3 separate regions of the Homo sapiens genome follow, and all the other regions are linked to region 3. The links come from fine-mapping of genetic effects on gene expression. A gene starts in region 3. Each other region holds a variant in brackets. All regions are shown on one strand. Distances are between the middles of the regions.

Region 1 (8,359 bases), 75 kb before region 3:
ATTGAGGGATGTCTCGGTGCCTCTGTTGCACTGAAAAGATCAAAACCCACTTTGCTGCTGATGTGAAAAAATACACACCATTTCCAAATGGCATTTCTCTTTTCTTTTTGGAAATTTGAGGATTTCTTAGGAGACAGCAATTGTATTTCTTCTCATCACTTGACAAGCATTTTGCATTACTAATGAACACAGCTTACTATTTGCCGGGTGCTGTGCTGGGACTGGAGATGTTATAATGAACAAGATAGATAGAGTCCCTGGGTCTAGACAATAATTAAGTAACTGGACAAATTAACTTAAAAATTACAAGTTATAATAAGTGCTGTATCAGTCAGGGTCCAACTAGAAGATCAGAAACCAATGAAGTATTAGAATTTTAATGCAGGGAATTGGTTACACAGGTGGTAGAGAGCTGAGAAACCAAACAGGGGAGAGAGAGGCGGCTCAGAGATTAGACACAGTAAGGAGCAGCTACTACCCAGGACAGGAGTGACAAGGAAAGCAGTAGTGTTTCTGGAGCCAAGGTGGAGTCGCCCTGGGGAAGGTGGAACTGTGGTGGACTTTCCAGTGGAAACTGGAGCCAAGGGGAAGAGGTGGCAGCTGCAGAGATGCCTCCCAAGGCAGAGATGGAGGCAGGCAATACCTCGTTTGACCCTTTCTGCACCTTCCAGGTTCTCCCAGTGGCTGCCATGGGCCAAACCTAGCCAGAATCCTGCTGGCACACTTGGGAAACACAGGAGAGGATGAGGAATGGATCTGAGGGCAAACAGGCCCAGGAGCAGCGCAAGTGCTATGAAAGAGATGAATAAGGATGAGATGGGGTTAGGGGAGAGAAAGGCCGGGAAAGAGAGAGAAAAAATCCTTTTTTAGACTGGGAAGTCAGGGAAGGCCTCTCCAAGGAGATGACATCTTAGCGGATGCTTCAGGGTATAAAGAAGCTAGCTATGTGGCCTTCCAGATAGAAGAATCAGCTAGGGCAAAGGCCCCCCAGTTTCTTCCAGAAGGCCCATGTGGTTAGAGGTCTGTTAAAGGAAGAAGTGCTGTGACCAGGGCTGGAGGACTTGTGGGGCCCAGATCAGACTGGCCTTGTGCTCCCTGATAAGAAGTTTGGATTGGAGTCTAAGTGAAATGAGAAGCCCTCATCCTTTCACAGTTTATCTCACCCTGGGCTTTATCAGATTTTCTGCCTGCCCGGTACCCTGCAAACATCAATAGTTGACATGGTAGACCTTTGAGCCCTCTCCGACCTAGTCTGTGATCACACTAGATACTGCCTCAGTTTTAAAGGCAAGTCTTTTCCTTTCTTGGTTGTGTAGAAGCTCGCATTTTCTTAACTCGTTTGGAAAGAAGTAAAAAGTTGACTACTGGTGTAAAGGCAAGAACAGAGCTTCACCACTCATAAGACCAGTGCTTTCCTTCCTTGAAAGGATGGTGAGCCCATAAAGGCAGGAGTCACTGGTGCCATTGGTTAACCTCTGAGTGCCAGCCTTGTGTTGGATAAGGTGGGGTGGCCCCAGCCCCAGCAGTGTGCTCATCCCTGGAGGGTCAAGAAGAGTATGACTGTAGAGACCCTCATTCACACTCCGTGGGTGGAACAGAAGGGCTGACTTCATCAAGTGAATGGTCTGCAGGGCCTTCTGTGTGTTATGAATTGAGCATTTGAGACCCTTAACAATGAGAGGAAAAGAAATCCTGGCATTTTTTATTACTAGGAACAATAAGTTTCTGGAACCAGTTTCCACTACAGAGTGACACTGGGCCTGACATCTGCTGAAGCGACTGTGCTCTTCTCAATGCCCAGACTCAGGGCAAAATGGAAGCTTTCTTACTCTAAGTCTTAATGGTGCTCTGTGGTTTCCAGAAATTCCCCTGCAAACTTCTCTCCAAAAACTTTGTTCTGTCCTTGCCTAGGTTATGGTGTCTTAGTTTGCATCTGTCTGCGCCATTTGACTAGACGCTCCTTGAGGACTGGATCCATTGTGGAACTTAGTTGGTGGGCAGTGGATGTCTGGCAGAGGAAGACATCCTGCCTCCCCATTGCCACCATGGACACTACATCAGGGTGGCTGCAACTTCTTGGACCTCTGTGTTCTGCCACTCACTGTCATGCTCTGTGACTTTGGGGAAATTAGGAAACCTCTCTGGGCCTCAGCCTCGTCCTCATCTATAAAGTGGAGATGCTAACAGCTACCTTCATGGGGTGTTGTGAGGAATGAGGGAATCCACAGGTAAAAGGCTTCGGACAGTGTCTGGTTATAGTGCATCCCGAGTAAATATAAGTGATTTCTCTGACTTCCTGCTGCTGAGACAGGGAACAATAGCAGCTCCTGCCATTGAATACTTACTATGGGCTAAGTACTAGCCTGTGTAGGTTGGATTCATTCTTTAATTCTCACATCGAGCTTATCAAATGGATATTCTTAGTATTCTGATTTTGCAGATTAGGGAACGAAGGCTCAGAGAAGTTGAATTTACTTTCACAAAGACACATAGTGAGTAAATGACAGAGCAAGAACTAGAGCCCATATCTTTTGAATCTAGACCCCACACTTCAACCATAAGGCTATCCCCTCTTCAGGTAGGGGTGGAGTCTTCGGTTCCCTGGTCTGTAGACCCTGGAATGACACTAGGTGCTGCTCCCTAGAATGTAATTGTTGCTTCTAAATGAAATGGAGGGAAACTGGTCAAAGCTCCCGCTCTGTCCATCGGCTTCTTTCCTGAAAAAAAGCTTGGTCCCTGGACTGTCAGATGCCCCAGCATCCTCCTCTGGGGTCTGCCCATACCCAATTTTGTCTTTTAGTTTCTCTTCT[C/T]ACTAGAGGTGCCTTTATATGTAAATGTTCGAAAGTTAACATTTTCATGGAGGACACCCTCTCCCCAGCTCCCTCTTTGTCTGTGGCACCTCCCATCCCATCTCCTATTTATTCTTACTTTACACAGAATTCTATAATCTGGCTATATTGTTTCTTATCCCGTGGCAGATTTAAAGAAGCAAATTAGAAGCAGGGAGAGAGACTTCTACAGGCAGGGTCACAGAGGTGATGTGTGGTGATTATAAGCCTGGGCTTTGGGGTCAGACCTATTGGGTTCAAGTGGCAGCCCTGTCACTTACTACTGAATGGCCTTGGTCAAAGCTCTTGACTGCCTGAGCTGGTTTCCTAAACTGCAAAATGAGAATAATAAAAGGACATACCTTGTGAGAATTAAATGAGCGAATACACAAAAAATCCTTAGCGCAGTGCTTGGAGCACCATTAATGTTCCTGTTTTGTTATTGTTGTTATTAGACAGTCAACAGTGAGAGAGGAAACAAAATAATTATGAAAAGCAGGCACAAGAATTTGAAGCACAGTAGTTTAGGGATAACACACCTCTGAGATCATAACTGGATAATACAGTGATGATCCTGGGTCATTGAGAAAACTTTAAATTATGTTCAGCATGCTTTGAGGAAGAATGCAGGAATTATGTATTTTTTTAAGAAGCCAGATAAAAATTGATTTTTAAAAAATTAGGATATAGTTAAGGCTGGCAAGATGGCCAATTAGGAACATCTCCGGTCTGCAGCTCCCAGTGAGATCGATGCAGAAGGGGGTGATTTCTGCATTTCCAACTGAGGTACTGGTTCATCTCACTGGGGCTAGTTGGACAGCGGGTGCAGCCCAAGGAGGGTGAGCCAAAGCAAGGTGAGGCGTTGCCTCACCTGAGAAGCACAAGGGATGGGGGAATTATCTTCCTTACCCAAGGGAAGCCTTGAGGGACTGAGCCTGAGGAACTGTGCACTCTGGCCCAGATACTGTGCTTTTCCCATGGTCCTTGCAACCTGCAGACCAGGAGACTGCCTCTGGTGCCTACACCACCAGGGCCCTGGGTTTCAAGCACAAAACAGGGCGGCCATTCAGGCAGACACTGAACTAGCTGCAGGAGTTTTTTTTTTTTTTTTTTTTTCTGTACCCCAGTGGCGCCTGGAGCGCCAGCAAGACAGAATCATTCACTCCCCTGGAAAGGGGGCTAAAGCCAGGGAGCCAAGTGGTCTGGCTTGGCAGGTCCCAGCCCCATGGAGCCCAGCAAACTAAGATCCACTGGTGGCCAGGCGCAGTGGCTCATGCCTGTAATCCCAGCACTTAGGGAGGCCAAGGCGAGTGGATCACCTGACGTCAGGAGTTCAAGACCAGCCTGGCCAACATGGTGAAACCTCATCTCTACTAAAAATACAAAGATTAGCCGGGCGTGGTGGGGGGCACCTGTAATCCCAGTTACTTGGGAGGTTGAGGCAGGAGAATCGCTTGAACCCAGGAGAAGGAGGTTGCAGTGATCTGAGATCGCACCATTGCACTGAGCTTGGGTGACAAGAGCAAAACTCCGTCTCAAAGAAAAAAAAAAAAGATCCACTGGCTCAAAATTCTCACTGCCAGCACAGCAGCAGTCTGAGATCAATCTGGGACACTCAAGCTTCGTAGGGGGAGGGTCGTTGGCCATTGCTGAGGCTTGAGTAGGAGGTTTTACCCTCACAGTGTAAACAAAGCCACCAGGAAGTTCAAACTAGGTGGAACCCACCGCAGCTCAGCAAAGCTGCTGTGGCCAGACTGCCTCTCTAGATTTCTTCTCTCTGGGCAGGGCATCTCTGAAAAAAAGGCAGCAGCCCCAATCAGGGACTTATAGATAAAACCCCCATCTCCCTGGGACAGAGCACCTGGGGGAAGGGGCAGCTGTGGGCACAGCTTCAGCAGACATAAATGTCCCTGCCTGACAGCTCTGAAGAGACCAGCAGTCCTCCCAGCACAGCGTTCAAGCTCTGCTAAGGGTGAGACTGCCTCCTCAAGTGGGTCCCTAACCCCCGTGTATCCTGACTGGGAGACACCTCCCAGTAGGGGCCGACAGGCATCTCATACAGGAGAGCTCTGGCTGGCATCAGGCAAGTGCCCCTCTGGGATGAAGCTTCCAGAGGAAAGAACAGGCAGCAGTCTTTGCTGTTCTGCAGCCTCCACTAGTGACACCCAGCCAAACAGGGTCTGGAGTGGACCTCCAGCAAACTCTAGCAGAGGGGTCTGATTGTTAGGAGGAAATCTAACAAACAGAAAGGAATAGCACATCTAATCAGAGACCACATCCGAAAATCACCAGCATCAAAGACCAAAGATAGATAAATCCACGAAGATGGGGATGTAAACCAGTGCAAAAAGGCTGAAAATTCCAAAAACCAGAATGCCTCTTCTCCTCCAAATGATCACAACTCCTTGCCAGCAAGGGAAAAAAACTGGACAGAGAATGAGTTTGACCAATTGACAGAAGTAGGCTTCAGAAGGTGGGTAATAACAAACGCCTCTGAGCTAAAGGAACATGTTCTAACCCAATGCAAGGAAGATAAGAACCTTGAAAAAAGGATAGATGAATTGCTAACTAGAAAAACCAGTTTAGAGAAGAACATAAATGACCTGATGGAGCAGAAAAACACAGCACGAGAACATTGTGAAGCATTCACAAGTATGAATAGCTGAATCAATCAAACGGAAGAAAGGATATCAGAGATTGAAGACCAACTTAATGAAATAAAATAAGAAGACAAGATAAGAGGAAAAAAAATGAAAAGGAATGAACAAAGCCTCCAAGAAATATGGGACTATGTGCAAAGACCAAACCTACGTTTGATGGATGTACCTGAAAGTGACGGGGAGAATCGAAACAAGTGGAAAACACTCTTCAGGATATTATCCAGGAAAACTTCCCCAACCTAGCAAGACAAGCCAACATTCAAATTCAGGAAATACAGAGAACACCACAAAGATATTCCTCGAGAAGAGCAACCCCAAGACACATAATCGTCAGATGCCCCAAGGTTGAAATGAAGGAAAAAATGTTAAGGGCAGCCAGAGAGAAAGGTCAGGCTACCCACAAAGAGAAGCCCATCAGACTAACAGCAGATCTCTCTGCAGAAACCCTACAAGCCAGAAGAGAGTGGGGGCCAATATTCAACATTCTTGAAGAAAAGAATTTTCAACCCAGAATTTCATATGCAGCCAAACAAAGCTTCATAAGCAAAGGAGAAATAAAATCCTTTACAGACAAGCAAATGCTGAGAGATTTTGTCACCACCAGGCCTGCCTTACAAGAGCTCCTGAAGGAAGCACTAAACCTGGAAGGGAGCAACCGGTACCAGCCACTGCAAAAACATACCAAATTGTAAAGACTATCAACACTTCGAAGAAACTGCATCAACTAATGGGCAAAACAACCAGCTAGCATCATGATGACAGGATCAAATTCACACGTAACAATATTAGCCTTAAATGTAAACGGGCTAAATGCCCCAATTAAAACACACAGACTGGCAAATTGGATGAAGAGTCAAGACCCAACAGTGTGCTGTATTCAGGAGACTCATCTCAAGTGCAAAGACAGACATAGGCTCAAAATAAAGGGATGGAGGAATATTTACCAAGCAAATGGAAAGAAAAAAAAAAAAGCAGAAGTTGCAAGTTTAACCTCTGATAAAACAGACTTTAAACCAACAAAGATCAAAAGAGACAAGGAAGGGCATTACATAATGGTAAAGGGATCAATGCAACAAGAAGAGCTAACTGTCCTAAATATATATGCACCCAACACAGGAGCACCCAGATTCATAAAGCAAGTCTTAGAGACCTACAAAGAGACTTAGACTCCCACACAATAATAATGGGAGACTTTAACACCCCATTGTGAATATTAGACAGATCAACGAGACAAAATTAACAAGGATATTCAGGACTTGAACTCAGCTCTGGAACAAGCTCCAACCCAAATCAACAGAATATACATTCTTCTCAGCACCTCATCACACTTACTTTAAAATTGACCACATAATTGGAAGTAAAACACTCCTCAGCAAACGCAAAAGAATGGAAATCATAACAAACAGTCTCTCAGACCACAGTGCAATCAAATTAGAACTCAGGATTAAGAAACTCACTCAAAACCACACAACTACATGGAAACTGAAAAATCTGCTCCTGAATGACTACTGGGTAAATAAGGAAATGAAGGCAGAAATAAAGATGTTCTTTGAAACCAGTGAGAACAAAGACACAACGTACCAGAATCTCTGGGACACATTTAAAGCAGTGTGTAGTGGGAAATTTATAGCACTAAATGTCCACAAGAGAAAGCAGGAAAGATCTAAAATCAACACCCTAACATCACAATTAAAAGAGCTAGAGAAGCAAGAGCAAACAAATTCAAAAGCTAGCAGAAGACAAGAAATAACTAAGATCAGAGCAGAACCGAAGGAGATAGAGACATGAAAAACTCTTCAAAAACTCAATGAATCCAGGAGCTGTTTTTTTTTTGAAAAGATCAATGAAATAAATAGACTGCTAGCAAGACTAACAAAGAGAAAAAGAGAGAAGAATCAAATAGACACAATAAAAAATAATAAACGGGGTATCACCACTGATCCCACAGAAATACAGACTACCATCGGAGAATACTATAAACACCTCTATGCAAATAAATTAGAAAATCTAGAAGAATTGGATAAATTCCTGGATGCATACACTCTCCCAAGTCTAAACCAGGAAGAAGTTGAATCCCTGAATAGACCAATAACAAGTTATGAAATTGAGGCAGTAATGAATAGCCTACCAACCAAAAAAAGCCCAGAACCAGACAGATTCACAGCCAAATTCTACCAGAGGTACAAAGAGGAGCTGGTACCATTCCTTCTGAAACTATTCCCAACAATAGTTTGGAGCTGGTACCATTCCTTCTGAAACTATTCCAAACTCATTTTATGAGGCCAGCATCATCCTGATGCCAAAACATGGCAGAGACACAACAGAGAAAATTTCAGGCCAATATCCCTGATGAACATCGATGTAAAAGTCTTCGGCCGGGCGCGGTGGCTCACGCCTGTAATCCCAGCACTTTGGGAGGCCGAGGCGGGCAGATCACGAGGTCAGGAGATCGAGACCATCCCGGCTAAAAACGGTGAAACCCCGTCTCTACTAAAAATACAAAAAATTAGCCGGGCGTAGTGGCGGGCGCCTGTAGTCCCAGCTACTTGGGAGGCTGAGGCAGGAGAATGGCGTGAACCCGGGAGGCGGAGCTTGCAGTGAGCCGAGATCCCGCCACTGCACTCCAGCCTGGGCGACAGAGCGAGACTCCGTCTCAAAAAAAAAAAAAAAAAAGTCCTCAATAATATACTGGCAAACCAAATCCAGCAGCACATCAAAAAGCTTATCCACCACGATCAAGTTGGCTTCATACCTGGGATGCAAGGCTGGTTCAACATATGCAAATCAATCAGCGTAATCCATCGCATAAACAGAACCAATGACGAAAACCACATGATTATCTGAATAGATGCAGAAAAGTCCTTCAATATA
Region 2 (8,359 bases), 680 kb after region 3:
AGCCACTGCTGGAACTCAAAAACTTTGGTTTCTTGAATTTTCTGAAAGGATAAAAGCAGGAACCTGGTAGAAGGCATGCCATTTCCTTTTCTAGAGAGGTCCACTTTCTCCATGTGAATCTTCTTTAAGACACTTAAACATCGCATCTAGAGACTATGAGAGTATAGAGGATGGTGGGGACAGAGAATGCCTGCTAATGACAGCTCTGCCTTGCTTCGCCCATCTCCTGGGATGTGAGTTCCTGGAGTTTCTGGAAGCCTTGTTGGCAGAGCCTGAAAACAAGGGGTTCTGCCTCACAGTTGTCTCAAGTCCGTGTCCTGTGCAGGTTTAGGAGAGGAGCCAGCGCTGATGGCTGTTTGTTTTCCCTCTGTCTGAAGAGAAAAACGGTGTGGGAGCAAGGCTTGCATGCTGCTACTGAGTGTTCAAGTCCTTCCACAGCCCTGTTGGCACATTTGTTTATTTTTTTTAGTTTGACTTTAAAAAATTTCACAAGTAACACATACTTGGGAAAAACAATTTGAAAATATATATGCAAAGACGAAAGAAACAAAACAAAAACGTAATCCCATCACTTCAGATAACGTGTTGATTTCCTCTTCAGGTCTGGCCCCGGCCCTGGTCCCGCTGCCCCTCCACCCCCATGTATCTGTATGTATTAGCAGTTATATCTGCTAATGTATCTGCAGATAACGTGGGGGTGGCGGGGTCGGGGAGTGGGGTCTGGCGCTCACATTCTCCTGCAACTGCTGTTTCTAAACGCTTGCTCCAATCTCCATTTGTAATTCGCTCTCACGTCTTCCCGTGGCTCCTGCTGGCTCTTCCAGCCTATTCTGATTCACTCCATTTCAACCATGAGCAAGCCCCACCTCCTTCATTTCCTAGAGGCAAGTTAATACAAGTCTGTTGTACAATGACCTGTATTAAAGGGTTTGGGTAAAACGGAATTGCAGCTGGAAAATGGAAGATTAGACAACATTATTCCTGCCACTCTCAGCTGAGCCCAAGGTCCTGCTACCAGATTTCTTGGCTCTGCCCCCTCTCCCCAGACTCTCCTCCCATCTTCTCACTTCTTGGTTGTCCCATGTTCCCCAGAACACCTTTCTCTTGGGTGCCCAGGGGATCGTGAGAGGCGTTTGAACCAGAACAGCTCCATCTTGAATAGGGCCTGGGTAAGATAAGGCTTGAGACCTGCTTGGCTGCACGTCCAGGAGGCTAAAGCATTCTAAGTCACAGGATGAGATAGGACGTTGGCACAAGCTGCAGGTCATAAAGACCTTGCTGATAAAACAGACTTCAGTAAAGAAGCCGGCTAAAACCCACCAAAACCAGCATGGCGACAAGAGTGACCTCTGTTCATCCTCACTGCTGCATTCCCACCAGCACTATGACAGTTTACAAATGCCATGGCAACATCAGGAAGTTACTCTGTATGGCTTAAAAAGGGGCGGCACTGATAATCCATTCCTTGTTTAGCATTTAATCAAGAAATAACCATAAAAATGGGCTCTGTCTATGGAGTAGCCATTCTTTCATTCCTTTACTTTCCTAATGAACTTGCTTTCACTTTACTGTATGGATTTGCCTCATTCTTTCTTGTGCGAGATCCAAGAACCTTGTCTTGAGGTCTGGATCAGGACCTCTTTCCAATAACAGGACCACTCTAGAGATCCTATTACTTTGTTGTGCTAAGTAATTTAGTTTTCTTTTTGTCTCAATGTCTTATATATAGACTAGCCCATGGCCTTCCCTATCATAGCCAAAAGGCCAGGGATTTTCTGAATCAAATAGACATCTACTATAGAGATGAATTTGCCATCCTTCTGGAAGGCAGAAATAGTGGAGTTTTTAATTTTATTTATTTTATTTTATTATTTTTTCCTTCCCATGAAATAAAAAAGCCTTTAGTGACTATTCTTTAAATTGGTGTGTGAGATGGCATGCACAACCTCTGAACAATATTTTGGACTTAGTTCTTAGAAGTGAAAGTCTAGGTGAGGAAATATGACCAATTTCAAGGCAATCTGCTGAATGGCCATGCAGAAGAAGGGCTCACCCTCCCTCCTGCAGCATGAAGTGAGAGCCTGTTTCCTCTTATCCTGACTAGCTTTGGATAATATAATTTACAGGAGAAAAGAATTATCCCCTTTGACAGGTACAAGTCATGCCTGCATGTTGATGTAATTTGGAAAGCTGTTTTGAACTGAGTGTGGTCAGAGCCTGGGAAGCCTGAGCCCTCTATGGAAACCCATGTGTCACCTTTTTCCCAACAGGCTTCCAAATGGAATCTTAAATTCTGCACGGCCATTTATCAGAGTTTCCAAATGCCACTTTCCAATTTGCATCAGATCTTTTCTACATATTAATATGATTATGTTACTAAGGTATATGTTTTTGCTGTTCTACCAAATTTGTGTTTGAAACACTAATGAGCCTACAAGGTGAGCTAGCTCCCTGGGGAAAAGGATTCATTTGCTTCTACTTGTGGATCATGAGGGCGTCCTGAGAGGGGCACGTGGAGTCAGAATAGTCTCTGGCAGTCCACTCTTTGTCTTCTGCTACCTCTGCTGCTAAATGTTGGGTCCGGCCCAATTCTTTTTTTTTCTTTGAGATGGAGTTTAGCTCTTTTGCCCAAGCTGCAGTGCAGTGGCACGAGCTCGGCTCACTGCAACCCCTCCACCTTCTGGTTTCAAGTGATTCTCCTGCTTCAGCCTCCCAAGTAGCTGGGATTACAGGTGTGTGCCACCACGCCCGGCTAATTTTTGTGTTTTTAGTAGAGACAGGGTTTCACCATATTGGCCAGGCTGGTTTCGAACTCCTGACCTCGTGATCTGCCCACCTCGGCCTCCCAAAGTGCTGGGATTACAGGTGTGAGCCACCGTGTCTGGCCCCAGCCCAATTCTTGACCTCTACCTTCTCTTGCTCTGGGCAAGGCCTGCTAGTTCTTTTTTTTTTTTTTTTCCCCACTCAAAGACAATGGACTTAGGTTAGAGGGGTTCAACCCATTGCTTTGCCCAGGAGTTTGTGTGTGTGTATGTATGTATGTATGTATGTATGTATGTATGTGTGTATTTATTTTGAGATGGAGTCTCACTCTGTTGCCCAGGCTGGAGTGCAGTGGCACGATTTTGGCTCACTGCAAGCTCCACCTCCCAGGTTCATGCCATTCTCCTGCCTCAGCCTCCCAAGTAGCTGGGACTACAGGTGCCAGCCACCATGTTTGGCTAATTTTTTTGTATTTTTAGTAGAGACAGAGTTTCACCATGTTAGCCAGGATGGTCTCGATCTCCTGACCTCATGATCCACCCGCCTCGGTCTCCCAAAATGCTGGGATTACAGGCGTGAGCCACCATACTCGGCCCTTTTTTTTTTTTTTTTTTTTTGAGACAAAGTCTCACTCTATTGCCCAAGGTGGAGAACAGTGATGTGATCTCGGCTCACTGCAACCTCCATTTCTCAGGTCCAAGCGATTCTCCTGCCTCAGCCTCCCAAGTAGCTGGGACTACAGGCATGCGCCACCATGCCCGGCTAAGTTTTGTATTTTTAGTAGAGATGGGGTTTCACTATGTTGGACTGGCTGGTCTTGAACTTCTGACCTTGTGATCCGCCTGCCTTGGCCTCCCAAAGTGCTGGGATTACAGGCATGAGCCACGGTGCATGGCCCGCCCAGGAGTTTTGTTGGCGGTGGGATCCAGGACCCAGATCTAAGTTAGGAGTCTTTGCAGAGGTGATTCAGGCCAGTGAGAGCCTGATGGTCAAACTATAGTCCAAGTTCTTAGAGAAAACTTTTCCCAGTCTCTGAACAACTACATTGCTTTGTCCTACAGGGGCCTGTTGTGGGTGCCTTTGAGTGTCATTCCTGGAGCAGGCTTCCAACTCTGAACAGTGGTTTGGACTCTAAAACAAGCTTCTGGAGCATATACTGCCACCCATTCTGTCCTCTCTGCTCCTGCTCTTCCCAAGGCCTGAGCATGAAGACAGATGTCACTACCAGTTGGGTCACTACCGGTTGGACCTTAGGGATGCGGGGTTTGTTTTGCCCACTGTAAACTGAAGGCAGTGCAATGGCTTGACCATGGGCCTGTCCTGCTGACCATGGGGCCCCCTGCTTGGTGTCAGTGCTGCCTCAGACCTTTACATAAGCCTTTCCTTACCCAGTCATTCACGAGGACCTGCCATCCCTTGAAGGGGAGCCACAGCCCCCAGGATGTCA[GC/G]CCAGGGTAGGCAACCTGGACTCCCCTTATTCATCCCCAGCCTGCTTCCACCCCAGACCCCCCTTTTGCCCCATTCTGAATTCTTGACTCCACATTCTGATTTTGATTCAGCGTTTTGAGACTTAGGACTTGGCATGTGTGCTTTGTCTTTCAGGATCTAAGCTTTCTCTGGAACTCTGATGGGCATCTGTTTTTCAGCTTTTCATGCTCCAAGATGCTGCAAGTGGCAATTCCTGTCTGGGCTCAGCCCTGGGCCCTCAGTCAGGGCCTCTGCAAGGCCAATGCCAGGCTTCCCTCATGTGCAGGGGTGCTTAGCAGGGGTGGCATGGAGAGGAAAGGTGAAAGAATCCCCTCAGCTCTGTGTCAGAGAAGCTGAATGCAACCCGTGGACAGTGGGTCGATAGCTAACTAGCCCATCCTTCCAAATCCTCATGCCCATCCTTCCAAAGGTACAGATGATCAATGAAGAAAAAACCAGAGGCATAATCTCCCCTTTCCTGCCCTATCTGTCAGGCCACACCCCCATGACAGGAACCTCACACAGCTTGGGCCTGCTCCTGCCTGCCCCAGCCCTTCTCAGCAGCAGACATCAAAGCTCTTCACCATCAAGACCCTGGATCCTCTGTGACCAGAGGGCATTTGAAACTTCAGCCAATTCTCCAAGTTGAAGAAGGAGGGTTTTGAGCTTCTATCATCAGTATGCAGTTCCTAAGGAGAGGCTCGGGCTCTTAATCACTGACCCAGGACCAGCCTCAGCCCAAAGCCAGTGGATGGCTGGTGTTTCCTGGTTTGACCTTAATTCTTATCAGCAGTAGAGCCTGTATTTGTTTTCCAGGGTTTCCACAATAAATTACCACAAACTGGGTGTCTTAAAACAATCAAAATCTATTCTTTCGATTATGGAGGCCAGAAGTTCAAACCCAAGATGTTGGTAGGGTTGGTAGAGTTGGTTCCTTCTGGAGGTTCTGAAGGAGATGTTTCTTCTCTAGTTTCTGGCAGCTGCAGCAATCCAGGGTGCTCCTTGGTTTGTAGACGTGTCATTCCAACCTCTGTGTCTGTCATCACATCACCTTCTCCTCTGCGTGTCTCATCTCCCCTTCTCTTCTAAGGACACAGTTCATTGAATTTAGGGCTCACCCAGGTAATCCAGGATGATCTAATCTGGAGATCTGTCTTTGTTTGTGTTGCTATAACAAAAGACCACAGACTGGGTAATTTATAAATAATAGCAATTTATTTCTCACCGTTCAGAAAGAAGTACAGGATCAAGTAGCCAGCAGATTCAGCGTCTATGAGGTCTACTGTCTCTGCTTGCAAGATGGCACCAAGTTGCTGCATTCTCTAGAGGGGATGAACACTGTGTCCTACATGGCAGAAGGTGGAAGGGCAAAAAAGGGGCAGACTCCCTCCTTCAAGCCCTTTTATCAGGGCACCTAATCTCATTCACGGGGACAGAGGTCTTATGACTCAATCACCTCCTAAAGGCCACATTTCTTAATACTGTTGCATTGGGGATTAAGTTTCAAAATACATTTTGGAGGGCACTAAATGTTCAAACCATAGGAAGCTCCTTAACTAATTACATCTGTAAAGGCCTTTTTTTCCCCACCAAATGAGGTCCCATTCACAGGTTCTAGGGGCTCTGGCCCTTTGCTGATTTCTTGCTCCAGCCTGTGAGCCTGGCTAACCTTATTTAGCTCCAAATCTCACTCACGTCTGAGTTCCTCCAGCAATACCTTCTCTATTTGTTGACCAAATTCTGCCCTGAATGTCAGAATTAATTCGAGTTTATTATACCCCATTAGACACAGAATAATGAAACACTGGACTCTGGCTGGCAAAATCAGGACACAGGCAGTGGCTCAGGGCAAGGGCGTGTGCTCTGGCGTGAGACAAATCTTGGTTCTTGGCTCCAACACTCACTCCCATTTCTGAGTCTTGGTTTCCTCAGCTGTAAAATGGGTTTGGATGATGATGCTTTTCTCAAGGTTGGTGCATATGTGCACAAGGCCCAGGGCATGAAGGATGGCATAGGGGTTTCTTGCCCGTTCCCTTCCTTTCTCTTTTTCCCATCCACCCTATGGAGTAAGTGTCTTTGTTACTACAGAAAAAAGAGGCAGGGTCCACAATGTGGTAATATTGTAATGTGTTAATGTCACAGAGTTATGCTTAAGAGGAAAAGATTTCCCTCCCACTCCTGGTACGAAGTAAGAAATAAGATAGAACTAGAAATCTATGGCCCAGGACCCTGAGAATTCAGAGCAGGGTGAAAAGATCAAGGCATTTCTGGAAAGAGAGAGAAGTGGCACCTCATTAGTCATTCAAGACAGATTCTGTGTGAAGTGTTTACTCTTATAATACAGCACCTGCAGAACTTTCCAGAATTTACAGGCATAACTAAAGGGCTGCAGGCAGGAAGTGCTCAGTGTCTTAATTCTGTCTCCTCCTAATTTCTTCTTGTGGACCAGCACTCTTTGTCCTAGCTTCCTCTCTTGCACACCAAGCCACTGCTAAGTCAAAGCTTGCCTTTTGATCCCATGATAGCACAGAAATCAAATACTCCCAACATCCCCTTATCCTCCTATGAACAGGCCAATGCAGCGCCCCATGTGCCAACCTTAAAAGCCACAGTTGCAATGACTGGCAGGAAGGATGATGATTAACACAGTTATTGAGTGAACAGTTGGGGTGAGGGTGAAGTTTAATCATTGGTTAGTTTTAATTGCAGTCTATCTCTGATTATGAGCATCACACAGTGCATATTTTCAGTCATGTCTACTTTAAAGCAAAATTGAGAAATAAGAAGGCTTATCATTGTCTGACAGTCACTATGGATTTCTGTGATGGGTGAGTTTAGTTTAAGCTAGTCACAGTTGACAATGAATATGCAAACAGATTCTAATGAAGACCTTTTCTCATCTCCCTACCTCATTGTATTATGCCACATTGCAGAGTGTGAGTATCTCTCTCCCATGCGCAACCCTGAGTGCCTGCTGGCCTGTCCCCAGGTTGCCTTCCCCAATCTTCCAAGATTATTCAGAGCTCAAATCCCTTAGATCTAAGCCCAGGTCAGCTTTTCTTCACAAGCGAGAGAGCATCCACTCGCACAGCCCTCTGATTAATTACTCGAGTTCTGCCAAGGGCCTTTTTGTGGATGGATGGGGGAGAGCATGTATCCCTTTAAACATGCTTAATTAAGCTGGGTGAAACACTGGACTCCTTAGCAACGGGCTGGGCCTTGAAGCAAGTCTTGTGGCATATTTGCACAAGATGCTCTGTGTTTGCCCATTTGAAATGGGATCGATCTATCTGGAGGATGCCTCCATGTCTTGTACTAGGACATTCTTCCTTGGCACAGCAATATGGCCCTCCCTAGGACTCTCCTTATAGATGAGCTGTGATTCTACTATTCAGAGAGGTTGGCCGGCTGCCTCCAAGCAAGGGATACAAGATGTACAGGTAATAGTGATGCTATTCAGAAGTGATATTTGACATATTTAATAACAGGGACAGCACAGGCTCTGGCCAGTCAGAACAAGCAACAGCCATAAACCACAGATAGAGCTGTTCTGGTAGGTACTTGCTGAATATCAGCTGTGGAAAAAGTTAGAGTTTACATAGAGCTTCACATATATTTCCCTGTTTGATCATAGCCACAACCCCGTGAGAGAGGTTTGGTACTTTCTTAATTTTAGAGATTTCCCAATTCTGAGGTTCAGAGAGGTCATATGTCTTCCCCACAGCTGCATAGGTCATCAAAGAGCTGGAAGCCAAGCACCCTCCTCCATGTTCTTTCTACTGTACCACGTGGCTTGTGTCGATACAGACCCTTGGGCTGGACCAATCCTGGAAGATCAAGAGCTGACTGGTGAGCCCAGGGCAAAGGTGGTGGGGGTAGGGTGAGAGGTGCAATGCTCTGGGATTTGTAGAAAAGTCAGGGTGGAGCCAGTGCCCCTTTCTGTACCCTCCACTCACATAGCACTATGATCCTATAGGAGGCTCGGGTTAAGAAAGGGCTGCACAGAGTCAACACAGAGAGGAGCATTCTTGGGAAACAAGGACACGGTTGTTTATTTGGGAGGTGATCCCCGGAAGCACAATGATGAAGTAGGCAAGGTTAGACATAGAAGACGAAAAAACAATAAAGT
Region 3 (8,359 bases):
AAGTCTGTATTCAGCTCTAAGCAGTTGGCTTTAAAGGATACTAATAAATTAGAACATATTCATGGGCATAGAAAAAAAAAGAGGTTTATTCTAGATAGTCATAGTTTGGTAACAATGAAGCAATATAAGTTTGTTTAAATATCTGAGGAGCTGTCATGTGGAAAAACAAGATTCATTTACAGAGAATGGGATGGCCACTAAGTATAGTAAGTATAAATTAGAAAGGCAGATTTCAGTTGATGATAAGCATGTCGCACCATCCAGAAGTGGAAATGGCTGCTACATGTGAGCTCCCTCTCATTGGAAGTATGGAAGTGTTTAGGTAAAGATTAGAAGTACATCTAATAAGTGTTACAGGGATTTTTACCTGGGTGGGAAGTGGAGTAGGTGACCTTTAACCTAACATTTTATTCCCAAAATGAAACTGAACCTTCCTCTAACATTCCTGTACCAATTTAATGAAAATGTAATTAAGATTCTAGTCAACCAGGCTGAAAACTTTGAATAATATCTACATTACTTAACAAAGAAAAAAACTGAACTTTTGAAATATATAGTCTCAATATTTAATATAAATACCTATGATAATTTAACCAACGTGGTATAGGGGAGATAGAATTTCTCTCCCTCTGCTCTCTGAGGTCTCCAGCTGGGCCCAAGAATTAAACTAACCTAAGACAGATTAACAGGAGAAAAACACACAAATTTTATTTAGTAATTTTTATACATACACAGGAGCCCTCAAGAAAAATAAGGACTAAAAAAAGTAATTAAGGCCAAAAGCTTACATAGTAGATTGGACAAAGGAGAAGTAAACTGTGAAAACATGACAAGACACAAGGGTTTGGGCTGGGCCAGTTAATCACAGAAAAGTGACTAGGAAGATAAGGGTTACTTTAAGAAGGCTTCTTTGAACACATTTCTCTCAGCTTTGATTGCCCACTTCTAGTAATGATAATGTCTTCCTCCTGGCATAGAGAGGACATCTTTCACATGGCTGTTTTATCTCCAGCCTTCAGGAAGAATTAGGAGGGTCAGTGGGCACTTCTTACATCTGCTGCTTTTCAATGTGCTTTTAACTCAAAATAATCCTTATGCCAAAGTGGCGTATTTTGCTACCCTACATTACCCACCAAAACCATATTTCAAAAGAAGAGTTAGTTGCTTATTTATTGAGTTATTAATAGAAAATGATCCCCTTTGTTTCAGCATTGTTTTCATCTGCTGCCCTAACTTTGAGTAAAGTTTATAATTTGAGGCAGCATATTAACTTGTTATCTTGTAACTGTACTTGGTATCTGGGAAACTTCATCACTAACTCCTTGCATTAAAATGCAACAGTATCTAGAGACTACCTGAGAGAGCCTGCAGAAGTGGTTTTCAACCTGGTTCCAGAAAGAGGGCTTGACATTTAGTTTATTTTGAAAACCATAAAATATTGATAAATATTAACATCTATCACTATATGGGTGTGAAAATAAGATATGACTCTGTGATCTGCATACAATATAAAACCACAACACAGAGTGCATGTTCACGAAAACAATCTGTTGAGGCCATCCTCTAGTCAACCACCACAGCTTTTCAGTGTCCCTCTTTGGTGACTGCACATATTTCTATCATACTATGACATTCGTTAAGTCACTTGGCCATTTCCCTCTAGTGAGCTTCTTGAGGACAGCAGCTATGGTCTGTCTTCTGGCAGATACACAAGCACTCAATAGATGTTTACTGAATAAATGCAGTAAATACCATTGGCAGTTTTTGTTTTATTATTATTCACTTAGTATTCTTTTGACTTTTGTTAATTTGGTCAGTCATCTATTAGTACTAGGTTGGAGAGAAGCAGAAGTTAAAAATATGTATGAAAGAAAATGTAAAACTGTGAAAATCTGTCATTAAATTAATGCTTATGTAAACTGGGAAACATTTACTATTTGATTTTAACAAGATACTCCCCCCTAGGCCATGCAACAGTGGTATTGCATAGAAACATAATTTGCAAACCACTGGCACAGAATTCAACAAAAGATGAATTTCTGGTCAAGATTTCTCAAAGAACTAGCAGCTCTCATATTATTGTGCCACCTATAACACAGTCATTTTTTGCAAGATAAAAATATGCTTTCAAAAAGCATTTGAAGGATTTTCTAAATAAAGAACTGTTATTTTGAAATGCACAAGATCAAGGATTCCAAAAATGCCACATTCTCTAGTGGGTGGTACATAGTGAATCACTTATTTTTCTAACAAATGAATTGTGGAAGTTCAAATATTCCTTATAAAAATATTAAAATTACATCATGGGTAACTGGCAAAGCAAAAACGAAAAAACTGCTCAAAAACTCCTAAAAATTTAAACCATAATTCATTCATAAAATAACTAAAGCAAAATGGAAAAGGCTGAAAATGCACCAAAATGACTAAATGACAAGTACTGCACTGTAGTATTTTAAAAACCTCTCTGAAACCAGTTCTCCATCAAATTTTGTATCAACCTCACCTAAAAGGATTTAATTGAAATAAACATCAATGATTTTCACTGTCAAGTCAACTTTAACATCAGTAATAAATACCAAGTACTACTGACTGGGTCCCTAAGGATATTATTTACTTTATTACTCATTGTTTACTCAAACTGTAGATCTGTAAACAGATATCAACTTTTTTTTTTCAAGACAAGTTAATATAGATACATAGTGAAATAATTAGGCCAGAGTCACTATAGAGTCCAGAATGCCTGTTCCAGAATCAAAGATCTTGATCAGAAAAAGATACATACATATATATTAGAGAGAGAAGGAGAGAGAAACTACAAAAGGATAGAGTGCCGTACTAGGAGATTAAGAATATGGATTTCTCACAGTAACAGTGTGTTTACTAAATGCATTTCATATTGGAAAAAGCATATTAGACTTGTAAGAATTCTCTCTGGACCTCCCTTGCCTTTTTGGGAAGGAAAGCGTGTTTGTATTTAGATGGGAACCAAGAAGGATCAGGCTACACACATCGAATATAAAGTTCATTTACACCAAATGACAAATATTAATTTTTGAAACATATAGTCATATTCTTGAGAAAAAGTTCTAGAAACTGAAGTCAGGCAATGTGAAAGAAAAGGATAAAAATCCATACTATTTTTGAGCTCTGAATTCAGAAAGCATCACTTCTCAGACGGGTGACTTCGACATGGAGGTGACTAATTTAGGATCGTCGGCCGGTGGCAGCTCATGCCCCCAGACAAAATTCTGAATGGGTAGAGGTCATTTTATAGCAAGAAGAATGGGCAGAAGGGAGTGAAAACGAATAAATTCGTGCTGAAGATGTAAGAATTATAAACAATTGAAAGTGTTCCAGCAGCTTTATATATATGCCAGAGGCAAGAACTGAATTAGCTGGCACCGCTAAATAGGACAGTGTCAGAATATAAAAGGTACACTACCTTTAATAAGGGGCATAGGGATCGATTTCAATAACAATCGTAAATCCACATTTTGTAACGCCGAGACAAATAACTGAAGGAATAATTTCAAAAGCTAACACAGAAGCCTTCTGCTCCTGCTGTGTAATCACTACCTTCTTATTATTAGCAAGAAAACGTTCTTTTCTTAGCCGGGTCTCAAGGTAGCAGCTAGTTTGACAAGGAAAGACCTTTGGGAAGGGTAGCAGCCTAAGCCAATTCATAAGTGTGGGGCTGGCTAAGTAGATCGACGTGGCTATTTCTGAGCTATCGTCCCAGGCAAAAGGTTTCTTATTTGGGTGTCCAGCCCGGCGGAGACCGAGCCCGCGGGCCACCCTAGCGCTCGCTCTGGCTACGCCGCCTCAGCCCCTCCTCAAGCGCACCTGGACATTTAACCAACAGCTAAGTCCGGCGGCCGAATGACTGAGCCGGCGGCAATATTCAAACAACCGTTTTGGGATAGAGAAGGAAAAACTCTCTCCGGGTCCCTCAGAACCACCCCGAGGCGGGACAAGCCACCGCCACCCCGGGCAACTGGAACCCGCCGGGCAGAAGACGGGCGTCAATAGAATGGCCTCCCCAGCCGTCCCCACGCCCCAATCCGAGGCCCGGGGAGGGCGGCGGGGCTAGGCCTGTCTCCCCGCGGAAGCCTGGCTCGGCAGCGGAGGGCCCTCTGGGGTTTCTCTTCCCAGACCCAGAGTCCTGGAGCAGCTAGCAAGGGAAACACGAAAGGACAGCGCCGCGGAGCTCACCCCAGGTTCAAGGCATCGCGCACCCTGCGGCAGCGGCTGCGCTGCCTCAGCCCACAGCTCAGACCTGCGGGTGGCCGCGACTCAGGCCGGGACCCGGTCGCACCTCTGTGACGCAAAGCCCCGCCCCCCGCGCGTTGCCGGGAGACGGCGCCCAACCTTCCTCTGCAGCGCCCCTACCGACCCGCGCTCCGCAGCTCCTGAGGGCTTTCGAGCCCAGATGGTCATCTGAGACGAGAGGTGGCGGCGAAGGAGAGTCTCGCCTGTCACGCTCCCGGAGCAGGGGCTTCATGAGGTGGCCATGGAAACAGCCTGGCAGACTCCCATCTCTCCTGGTGCCATCTCCGGAGCGGAAAGTGGAGCGCCCCGCTGGCGACCAAGGCCGCACTGAGAGCCCTGGTTTGGTCAACAGTTGGGCTCCAAGGTACCACTTCCCAGACCTCCAGCCTCCCCACTGATGATAGATACACAAAGGTCATCTTGTTTCTTTATGAGGCAATGGATTGTGTTCACCTAGCCGAGTTGTTAAGCATAAGAGAATGTATGAAAAGTAATTACAAGGTTCAAAATCCTGAGCTTTGATAAATGATAGATATGATGATGAGCACATGTTAGTGATATTACTGCTCTGCGGGACGTCTGAATCAGTAATTGCTGTCTTTTAAGCATCTGTTGTGTGCCAAATACTGCACTAGGCACTTTACGGGCATTGCTCTTGTTTAAGTCGTCTGGTCAAAGTTGCCTAGACAATAAACAGCAGAGCAAGGATTTTAACCCAGGTACAGCTGACACTGCTGCCTCTATGCTTAGCAGTTAAACTGGTTTTTATGTTTCTTGTTTGTACACCCCTCCTTCACCAGTCACTTGTAGATTCACCTTGTGAAGAGCTAATTCTTCCCTCTAATAATAATACTCTTTGACCATTTACTATATGTCAAACCGTATTTTAAGGACTTTAAAGGTATTAATTCGTTTAATCTTCACAGCAATCCTGTGAGTAGGTATTATTAATACCTTCACTAAGACACAGGCTTAGAAAAGTCGATTAACTTTTCCAAGGTCAAACAACCATTAAGGAGCAGAGCCAGATTCAAACCCAAGCAGACAGAACCCTGAACCTGTGTTTTTAATTCCTGTTTTAAACTGCCTCGGTAGTACGGTAAGACTTCATTAGCGCTAGGTCCATGCCTGTTTGTGCACCATTATTTCCCTGACAGCCAGCATGGTACTTGTTCAATATTTGAACATTTGATGAATATTTGAACACTGGAAAAGGAAAAAGCTTAAAAATGAAGTATAAATAATGATTTAATAAATTCCAAAAGATATCAAATTCAACAAGATTCCATAGTTCAGCCTAATCCGGGCCTGGGAGTTAGAAATATTACTCTGTAAAAATTGCCTTCAATTAAACATTGTATTGGAAGTTCTGGTCAATGAAATAAAAAAAGACAAATATATAAAAGGCATCCAAGTTGGAAAGGAAGTTGTAGCACTGCATTTATTTGCATAAGAAAATTGTGGAATACTACAAAAAAGCTGCTAGAACTCATAAGTGAGTTTACAAAAGTTGCAAGATACAAAATCAAATATACAAAAATCAGTTGTATTTCTATATACTAGCAATGAACAATTAGAAATGGAAAATTTTTAAATATCTCTTATCAGCAAAAAAAAAAAAAAAAAAAAAAGCAGCAAATTTGGGACAAATTTGACCAAAGATGAGAAAGACATGTATACTGAAAACTATAAAATATTATGGAATAGCAAAGACATGGAATCAACCCAGGTGCTTATCAATAGTGGATTGGATAAAGAAAGTGTGGTACATATACGCCATGGAATACTATACAACCACAAAAAGGACTAGATCATATCTTTTGCAGCAACATGAATACAGCTGGAGGCCATTGTCCTAAGCAAAATAATGCAGAAACAGGAAACCAAATACCGCATGTTCTCACTTATAAGTAGGAGCTAAACGTTGAGTACACAGACACAAAGTTGGGAACAATAAACACTGGGGATTCCAAAAGGGTAGAAAAAACTACTATTGGGTACTATGTTCACCACTTGGGTGACCTGGATCATTAGAAGCCTAAACCTCAGCATTGTTCGATATACCCATGTAACAAAACTACACGTGTACCCCCTGAATCTAAAATAAAATAAAAAACATTGTTAAGAGAAATTAAAGAAGACCTAAATAAATAGAGATACATTATGTTCATGAATCAGAAGACTGAGCATTTTTAAGATATCACTTCTGCCTAAATTGACCTACAGATTTAAGGAAATTCCAATAAAAATTCTAGCAGATTTCTTTTTGATGGAAATGACCAAACTAATTCTAAAATTTATATGGAGATGCAAAGGACCTAGGATAGTCAAGACTTTCATCAAAAAAAACAAAGTTTTGGGACTTACACTACCTGATCTCAAGACATTATAATAAGAGCTACTCAACACAGTATAGTATAGGTATGAAAATAGATAGAGTAATGGAACAGTATATAGAACCCAGAGATGTATCTATACATATGTCATCAATTGATTTTCGACAAATATGCCAAGGCAATTCAGTGGGGGAAAAGATAATCTTTTCAACAAATAAACCTGAAAAAATTGAATAGCATATGCCAAAAAACTCTTAATATCTTGCTCCTTTCCTCATACTGTCACAGGATCCTTGGAGTGTTGCTCTGCCAGCCAGAAACCTCTGTGGCCGGTGGCTCCTTTGCCCGAGTTTTGCTCAGGCCCACTGGGCTCATTCTGCCCATTTGGCCTTGCAGGCTGCACTCGGCTCATGCCACTGGCCCAGATCCCATGCCTGCCAAGGACGAGCCAGGCGCAAAGTGGTGAGGGGTGCGTGAGCAAGTGAGCGCGAGGTCTGGCCGCTGTGCACAGCTAGGCACGCCAGCTGTGGCGGGGCGGGTGGCTCCAGGTGCTGGCATGGGCGCTGGCTCCTGCAAAGCTGTGGCTGGACCAGGAGTACCACAAGCGGCTTCCACTGCTGGCACTAGGGAATGTGGTGGCACCTGGAAGCTTTGAGATGCCAGGAAATGCAGAGCCCCCAAGAGGGTGTTACAGTCCTGGCTCAGGGAGCTCTTAGGTCTGGGCTTCTCGAAGTGTCAAAGCTCTTCTCTCCTTCTCTCTTCTGTCCTTCTCATCGCTTGCAACATGGGGAGTGAGGGGGTGTTTCAGCCCTGTTTGTGTTACAGTTCTTTCAGTCCTGCCATTTGGCAGGTCCCAAGTTGTTGTCCCACATCCAGGAATAATGAGGTATGCAGACAATTGGAGGGTGAGTAGGGTGAAGAGGTGCTTTATTGAGTGACAGTATAGCTCTCAGGAGACTCTAAGTGGGTAGCTCCTTTCTGCAGGCAGGTTGTCCGGTTGTCTGCCCAGCTCTCAGCTGAGAGGAGACCCACAGTGGGTGGCTCCTTTCTGCAGGCAGGTCGTCAGGATGTCTGCTGAGCCCTCAGCAGAGAGGAGATCTGGAGTGGGTAGCTCCTACACGCAGGCAGGTTGTCCCCATGTTTCTTGAGTCTGGCTGAGCCTAGGATATTTATGGGCTCAAGAGGGAGGAAGTGCATGCTGATTGGTCCATGGGCAGTAGAAAAAGTGCCATAAGTTCTCACTCCAGTCTGAGGACCTGGCAGCCCAGCCCCCAGGCTTCAGACTCTCAGTTGCCTAAAGGTAGGGTTTCACTGAGGACCCACCCCTTTTTGCCCAGGAGCCAGTCTGCCTCATGCCACTGTCCATGGCACCAAGGCTGTTTGTGCCAGCGGGAGCCTGCAGGCCCACACTGAGCTGCCCTCAGCGCCCCCTCAGCTTCCCCTCCCATGCTCATCAGTGTCCAAAGTCCAGAGGGGGCTGAGGTGGCAGGGGGCTGGCATGTCAGTGTTGCCCCAAGCATGCACACACCTGCCAGATTGTGACAGCGTCTGGGCTTGGCCACAACTTTGCTCTGCCCCAGAAGCAGGGAGAGGCCAGACAGCAGGAGCAGGCACTTTCAAGCCTGTGGGGGCAAGGGGCTTCCTGGGCCCCTGAGAGCACAAGGATGCCCAGGTCCACAGCTGTGGTTGGGCAGCTGCAGCTGTGCCCAGGAGGGTGGGGCTCCCACCCCACCAACTCAGAAGCAGGTGGGGCT

What was found. PIP is the estimated chance that this variant, and not a neighbour inherited with it, causes the effect. A credible set is the group of variants that fine-mapping cannot tell apart.
Region 1: its variant is the best candidate, but not a certain one, in a credible set for the expression of RNF141 in spinal cord (GTEx, PIP 0.63).
Region 2: its variant is the best candidate, but not a certain one, in a credible set for the expression of RNF141 in putamen (GTEx, PIP 0.68).

Annotation. Positions count from the first base shown.
Region 1 is chr11:10,461,897-10,470,255 of GRCh38, forward strand. All of the region lies in intron 2 of AMPD3 (adenosine monophosphate deaminase 3), which reads left to right. Among named protein-coding and RNA genes, the nearest start is that of AMPD3, 11 kb to the left of the region's middle. The variant C/T (reference allele first, on the strand shown) is at 2,811.
Region 2 is chr11:11,220,125-11,228,483 of GRCh38, forward strand. No RefSeq gene overlaps it. Among named protein-coding and RNA genes, the nearest start is that of LINC02752, 110 kb to the left of the region's middle. The variant GC/G (reference allele first, on the strand shown) is at 4,211.
Region 3 is chr11:10,536,910-10,545,268 of GRCh38, forward strand. It overlaps RNF141 (ring finger protein 141), which reads right to left and starts at 4,278. Exons shown (of 6, transcript NM_016422.4): 1 at 4,213-4,278. It overlaps IRAG1-AS1 (IRAG1 antisense RNA 1), which reads left to right and starts at 4,327. Exons shown (of 4, transcript NR_046375.1): 1 at 4,327-4,633. RefSeq lists an enhancer at 4,354-4,463.